Homo sapiens: one gene and its partner. The protein of the gene in region 1 purifies or fractionates together with the protein of each later gene. This does not show direct contact. Each region holds a gene or a part of one and is shown on either strand. Other genes may lie near its edges.

Evidence for each region.
Region 2: the proteins of AKR1C4 (region 1) and PLXDC2 purify together in Homo sapiens (affinity purification with mass spectrometry; 3 studies listed by BioGRID and IntAct, with this or other methods). This does not show direct contact.

What each region holds. Positions count from the first base shown.
Region 1 is NC_000010.11:5,194,913-5,198,840, reverse strand, and holds the start of AKR1C4 (aldo-keto reductase family 1 member C4), read right to left. Parts: upstream 2,005-3,928; 5' UTR 1,974-2,004; coding exon 1,890-1,973; intron 1-1,889. UniProt on the Homo sapiens protein: Cytosolic aldo-keto reductase that catalyzes the NADH and NADPH-dependent reduction of ketosteroids to hydroxysteroids. Liver specific enzyme that acts as an NAD(P)(H)-dependent 3-, 17- and 20-ketosteroid reductase on the steroid nucleus and side chain.
Region 2 is NC_000010.11:19,819,399-19,823,326, forward strand, and holds part of PLXDC2 (plexin domain-containing protein 2 isoform 1 precursor), read left to right. Parts: intron 1-3,928. UniProt on the Homo sapiens protein: May play a role in tumor angiogenesis.

The DNA of each region.
Region 1 (3,928 bases):
TTGGTAGAGATGGGATTTCCTATGTTACCCAGGCTCAAACTCCGGAGCTCAAGGGATCCACCTGCCTTGGCCTACCAAAGTTCTGGGATTACAGGCATGAGTCACTGCATACACACTCCTAATTATTTTTAATATAGTGAAATTAACACATGGAAAAAGGCACATGGAAGAAATTATGGTAAGAATACGGTGTAAGTTCCTATGATTCGTCTCTCAGTGATGTTTCAGGAAACACACTGACTTCCTCCAGCATCACATTTTGGCAACATAGGGGAAATGTTGACTACAAGGGATGCTATTTGGAGACTCAATTCCCAAGATTTTAACTGGGTGCTGGTTAAATTGACCCAGTCTGTATAGCACACACCAAACTTCCGGTCTTGTAAAGAAAGCAGGTATACAGAAACCCCACACTTTGTACAACCAGTTAATTATAGATGCTACCCTTATCAGTTAGGAAGGGGTGAGAAATTCAACTTCTCAGATACCAGCCAGGCTCCAACTTTGAAAACAGGCGCATCTACGGGTGGCAGTCTATTGTGTTAACTCCTTTCTACACAGCCATTAGCCATTCTGTGTGCATGACAGAACTAAATACTAGGAGTAAAGACATACATTCCAAGGATGTAGATTTATACCTAAGAAATTAACTGCGACCTGTGAGAGATTAGTAAGGTACGCTTTATCCCTAAAAAATAAGACCAACTCTTTTAGAAACGATATAATTTCAGTGAAATTTAAAATTATTGACTTATCTACCAAATTTGGATAAAGATTTGAAAGGTATATTTTTTAAATGACAAAACCGTAAATGAAACAATTTTCTATTTTAATATAAGCTTTTCTGAAGCTTTCTTTTTCTAGTGAAATTAAAAGGAACTAGATGCCAGGTTGCACTACCTTCCCCTGATGCCAACCCTGATCCTCTGTTTGCTGTGCAGGCACTCAAGGTTTACCAAGGCTAGAGCTTCCGTGTTGTGCTTTTCCTTACTTCTCCTTCATGCCAATTTGCATTACAAAGTGAACCACTCCTGTCGATGGTCTTCAAGGTGTTTCTCTGTAAATTCTTACAACGTATAGTTGATCAAATTTAGACAAAAATTTTATGTGACTACTCCTTATTAACACACTTAGTAGTCTTGGAATACAAGTTTTCTTCCAGTGTAGAAATAGCTCAGTCTAGAAAAAATGTCTCCATTTTGCCCACTTCCGTGTCAGAGGGCCACCCCTATCATTTTGATACAAATCTGATGCATATTAACACGGACCAAAAATTTAAAATTTTTCTTGTGAGGTTCTAGGTTTTCCTTAGAATAAAGTTATTTTTCCTTTCAGATAATTTTCCTAGAGGTGAGAGTTGTGCAGGGCATTGTATTAAGTCCAGGACCAGTATTACTGTGTCATGCTCAAGACCACGCGGCAGCTCAGCAGTACTCTCCCAACAGTTTTCATACACCCCATCTTTAGGTGCTGTTACCACAAATGTTTCTTTTGATCACGTCTAGTAGAAGAATAAAAGATTTCTTCAACCACAGAAATAAATGGAGAAACCATTCTCACTGCAGTCATCTCCTAGAAAGGGAACTGCCAGGCAGTGTTCTTCACTGTTGAGTTTTATATATTCTGCCAAGCTGGGCAATACACAGAAACAGCATATAAAAACAGTGTATAAAATAAAAATAAGCAGTAAATTACCATATGACAGACCTCAGTGCAAAACAAACATTGACTACCTTTTCTCTTTGAACATAGAATAGCTCTAGCCCAGTAAGACAGACCACGTGAGTCACTCAGGGTAACAGAAACACAAAGCTGAACAACCCAGGTCATCGTTCACTTATTCTAGCTTTGCTCTTTTAAATGCTCAATGCTGAAAATGTGATTATTACCTCTGGAGGTGCATAGGTGCCAAATCCCAATACGGGCATGAAGTGACCATCATTTAGCTCTACACGCTGATATTTGGGATCCATTGCTTGCCACTTCTTTCACTAAGCAGATCCTGTTTCCTTCAGCAACATCTGGCATTTATATTCAGGGGTTATGTAAAACATGGGCAGGCAGTGCTGCACTGCTCCCTGGGGCTAATCAATGGCATGTAGGAGGAAGCAAGTGATGGTGTATTACACAGGCTGTGAGGAAAATTGAATCCAGTTCACTCGTTTCTTATCAAAGAGAATTTTTACATACATTATTATATAGTCAAAATATTTTTTTCTAAAGTGAAATTTTCTATTCAGAATCAATCAATCTCTCTCTCTGTCTGTCTGATAAACTCATCCAACAGGTTTATAGAATGATTGGTGATCATGTTAGACTATAAAATACCTCCAGCTACAAATCTTGTTTTTGTTCATGCCATGATGATATCCCATCTTTATCTTCTGTCATTTGAAATAATCAACCATCTTACATCTTTCTCTCAGACAGTATTCAAAAGAATGACCAGTGAGCATTTTTTTTTAGTGGTGACCCTCAATAAAGAAATTAAACAAAACCAAAGAAAATTTCTCTTTTTACGTTTTTCACCAACAAATTAATTTTGTTTCTTCTTTAATTGTAGTAGGAATATTCATTCCTGATGAAGGTGTGGTCCTGATGATGTGGCAATCCTGCAAAGGTTCAAAGGGAAAAGAAAACAGAAATTCTGACATGATGTTTATTGGAGTATTAATTATTAACAATGTTTGGACTTTGGACATCATTTGCAACATGCAAACAGTTCTTTAATAGTGTTTGTATCTTCCATCAGTTTTATAAGAAACCAGCAAAAGTAACTTCCCAAAAAGCTGATAACTATTTTATATAATTTGTGATCTTATTAAATGTTATAAAGAAAAAAGTAATTAAAATAAATTGGTGAATAATCCTCACATGGCATAATTTTACTTGTTTCTCCCATTGGAGGGCAGACTAGAACACGATGATTAGGCCGGGGGCAGTGGCTCACGCCTGTAACCCCAGCACTTTGGAAGGCCAAGGCGGTAGGTTTACTTGAGGTCAGGAGTTTGAGACCAATCAAGTGAAATCTTGTCTCTACGAAAAATACAAAAATTAGTCTGGAGTGGTAGTGGATACCTGTAATCCCAGTTACTCAGGAGGCTGAGGCAAGACAATTGCTTAAACTCAGGAGGCAGAGGTTGCAGTGAGCCAAGATTGGGTCACTGCACTCCAGCCTGGGCGACAGAGCAAGACTGTCTCAAAAAAAAAAAAAAAAACAAAAAACAAAAAACGAAGATGATTAACATCTGTGAAGAATCCATACCAATATCTGTTGTTGTCTGACATTTTAAGAATAGCCATTCTGACTGGTGTAAGATGATATCTCTATGTGCTTTTGATTTGCAACACCCTCTTTTCTTCTATTCACTTCTTCCTAAAAGGAACAATAAAAGAAAATAATTAGGTAAATTACTATACATTGAAGCAATGGAATATAATAGAGCCATTTAAAAATTTTCACACAGAGTGTCATCAGCAGGATGGTAGATTAGAAAGCTCTCAAATCTCCCATGGAATTATCAAAAAACAATCTGAAATGAACTAAAATAAACTCATTTATTTATAGAGTGGCTCAGTAGAGATGCAGGGTGACTATAGATGCACAGATGCCACTGGCAAGAGATTAGGGGGAAGAGACATACAATAGGCCATCTATGGCACTTAGGAGAAGCTGAGCTGTGAATTTTTGACATGATAAGGTATTCAAAACCATTGGGTATTTGGAGAAATCAAATAGGGCACACAGAGTCTAGGCAGATGCACGTTCAGAAAAGAACTGAGAAGACCTTAAGTTTTCATGTAGGGCTGATGTCGAGACTAAGAATATGCCAAGCATATTAGCTGATCATTGTCATGACACAGAATATATATAGATTATGAAATGTGGCTGTTTTTCAAATGTGCGATAAAAACAATAACAAAGCTA
Region 2 (3,928 bases), about 15 Mb from region 1:
ACTGAATATATAAAAAAAGCAAGGTGAAACAGAAAAAAGTATACAACTTTATTTGTAAAATAGTCTATATAAAAATTCAGTATGGGGGGAAAAGTCCAGCAGTCTTGACGTTTGTCATGCAACAATCAGGATCTTTATTACAGACATGTTGGCACAGGAACAACATCTGATTTCATAACAGGGACATTTTATTATGCGTTACTTTAGTAAATGCTGCAGTTGATTTCATTGCCACCAGAGGGCAGATAAACTGCTAATTTCCTCTATTATTCCCTTTTCTGTTTTAGAGGGAAGTAGTTTATGTTTATCATATAATTTACACTTATTTTAGTTGTTCTTCTCTGGTTGAATATTTTTCTGTTATTTCCTGCTTTTGTTGGAGTTAAACAATTTACTTTGAAATATTACTCATTTGTAGAGTTTGTTATGAGAGTGTTGCTGTTGAGACATAATCACTAAAGTTTCTGTTTACATATAAACCTAGAGCACAGTGATATAATAGAGGGGTTAATTCAAGTGAACATTTATTGTAAAATGGACATCTGTCATATTGTTGGACAAAAGACAGGTTGATTATTTTATCAATCAATGACTTGAGGCTACCTGCAAAATTTTAAAAATATGAAATATGAGTTTCTTTTTCCTTTAGAGAACAGATACAAGTTTTGGAGCTTGAGGTTGGGTAAGTTTGGACTGAGACATAATTGTAGTGTAGAACATTTATATCAAAGGTAATTTTTGTTGTTGTTGTTCATGGATGTCTGCCTAGAGGTTTGGAATTATTATAATCAGGAGAATTTGCACATTTCAGTGTGATCTTCAGAAATAAACTCTTGTCAGGGAGAATGTATTTGAATAAAACTTAATAATGAAAGATAATAATTTTGCTCCAGACAGGTTTCTTCACTGTAAGCATCAGATACTCACAGAGTATGTAGAAAATATGTGTCCGGCCGGGCGCGGTGGCTCACGCCTGTAATCCCAGCACTTTGGGAGGCCGAGGCGGGTGGATCATGAGGTCAGGAGATCGAGACCATCCTGGCTAACAAGGTGAGACCCCGTCTCTACTAAAAATACAAAAAAAAATTAGCCGGGCGCGGTGGCGGGCGCCTGTAGTCCCAGCTACTCGGGAGGCTGAGGCAGGAGAATGGCGGGAACCCGGGAAGCGGAGCTTGCAGTGAGCCGAGATTGCGCCACTGCAGTCCGCAGTCCGGCCTGGGCGACAGAGCGAGACTCCGTCTCAAAAAAAAAAAAAAAGAAAAGAAAATATGTGTCCTTATCAATTAGTTTTGTCATTTTTTCCTAAAAGCTATCTCCTATTGCAGAAACATTATGTTTTTAAAGAGGAATGAGTTGATCAACAGCCTTGATCATGGGATCTAAAGTCTTCAGCTGCAGGCTGGGCACGGCAGCTCATGCCTGTAATCCCAGCACTTTGGGAGGCCGAGGTGGGCGGATCACCTGAGGTGAGGAGTTCCAGACCAGCCTGGCCAGCATGGTGAAACCCCGCCTCTACTAAAAATACAAAAATTAGCCGTGTGTGGTGGTAGACCCCTATAATCCTGGCTATACTTGGGAGGATGAGGCAGGAGAATCACTTGAACCCAGGAGGCGGAGATAGCAGCGAGCCGAGATTGCACCATTGCACTCCAGCCTGGATGGGCGACAAAGGGAGACCCTGCCTCAAAATAAAAATAAAAATAAGTAAACAAACAAATAAATAAATGAAGTCTTCAGCTACTTTCTCCTCACATTAATACAGTCTCTTCTCCATGGTCTTCAAGGCCATTGCCTGTGGCCTCAAGCACTTTCCCACCCTCTCTCCCCTGCCTGTTCTTGAAAGCTCTCACCAGATGAGCTGCTGAAGTTCCCTGAGTGTGTACCATGCATTACCACTTCTGCCATTCCTCCTGCTCTTCCTTCTCTAAGTGCGTCTCCATCCATCCATTTTCCAATTTTTCCTGCAGATTTATCTCAAGTGACACTCTCCACAAAAGGACGTGTTGTCTTAGAATTCTCAGTGCACTTTATGCCTTCTTCAAAGGCACTTGCTTGATATTGTAGGGTTTCCTTTTCTTTCCATTTCTACCTCTCTCTCATGTATTCTATTAGACTAGACCATACATTCCTGAGGTCAGGGTCTGTTGTCATTTATTTCTGAATCTGCTGTGGCAACAACCAATAAATAGTTGCAATAAATGGTTGTTGGACTGAACTGAACTGACTAGAACTATAGTTCAAGCTGAATTATTAATTTGAATGCCACGTTGGGAGACTTTTTAAATAATTCCCATGCTAAGACTTTGTCCATCCCTAGGATAGAAATAAATTTAAAACGAACTTTGGAGAGTAACTGTTGAAACCAAAGCATAAGATCCAGAAGTCTGCTAAACTATCCTTCTACTATTAGGTGGGACTTTCAAAAAATTCATTCGACCATTCTTCTATCCTGCTGGTTTCTGAGTGAATGTTCACTCATGTTCTTAATCTCATATCTTTTTTCTTTTATACATTCCTTTAAAAAAAATTCTTTGTTTTCATTTTTAATAATATGTATTTAAGCTGTGCAACATGATGCTTGTTTATTTTCTTATTCTATGTATAAGAGAAAGCAAATTGCATTTGTATTTCCGTGTCTGAATTATTTTACTTAGCACAATGTCCCCCAGATTCATCCATGCTATCACAAATAGCAAGATCTTCTTTTTTAAAGCTAAATAATATTCCATTGTGCATATATATGCACTATATATGCAATATATAATGTATATACACTATATATGCACTATATAGTATATATGCACTATATATAATATATATGCACTACATATGCAATATATAATATAAATGCCCTATATATGCAATATATATAATATATGCACTATATATGCAATATATATAATATATATGCACTATATATGGAATGTATATGCACTACATATGCAATGTATGTGGAATATATATCCAGTTATTCATCAATGGACACTCAGGTTGTTGTCATATCTTGGCTATTGTGAATAATGCTTCAATTAACATGGGAGTGAAGATACCTCTTAAAGGCTCTGGTTTTATTTTCTTCAGGTATATATACAGAAGAGAGGTTGCTAGCTCATATGGTGGTTTTATTTTTGATTTTTTGAAGCAACTTCATATTGTTCTTTTTATGGCTCTACCAATTTACATTCCCACCAACAGTGTATAAGGGTTGCCTTTTCTCCACATCCTCACCCACACTTACTATCTATTGTCTTTTTGACAATAGCCATCTTAATATTAGTAGGTGTGAGATGATACCTTATTGTGATTTTGATTTGTATTTCCCTAATGATTAGTGATGTTGAGGACCATGTCATATGCCTGTTGGCCATTTTTTTTGTCTTCTTTGGAGAAATGTCTTTTTTAGGCACTTTGCCTATTTTAATATCAGTTATTTACATTAAGCCTTCTGTTGATAGATAGGACTTTCAAAAAGTTTATTCCACTATTTTCCTATACTGCTAGTTTCTTTCTGGATGTTTACTTACTTTTTTTTTTTGAGACAGAGTCTCGCTGTTTCTCCCAGTCTGGAGTGCAGTGGCGCGATCTCAGCTCACTGCAAGCACCGCCTCCCAGGTTCACGCCATTCTCCTGCCTCAGCTTCCCAAGTAGCTGGGACTACAGGCACCCGCCACCACGCCCAGCTAATTTTTTGTATTTTTTAGTAGAGACGGGGTTTCACTGTGTTAGCCAGGATGGTCTCGATCTCCTGACCTCGTGATCAACCCACCTCAGCCTCCCAAAGTGCTGGGATGTTTACTTATGCTTTTAATTTAATATCTTAAAATATGATATACATATATATGTACATATGCATACATATATGGTGGTGGTGGTGTTTCATTTCACTGAAGATGAAGACTATTAAATAATTTTGGTTCTTTGTGGGATT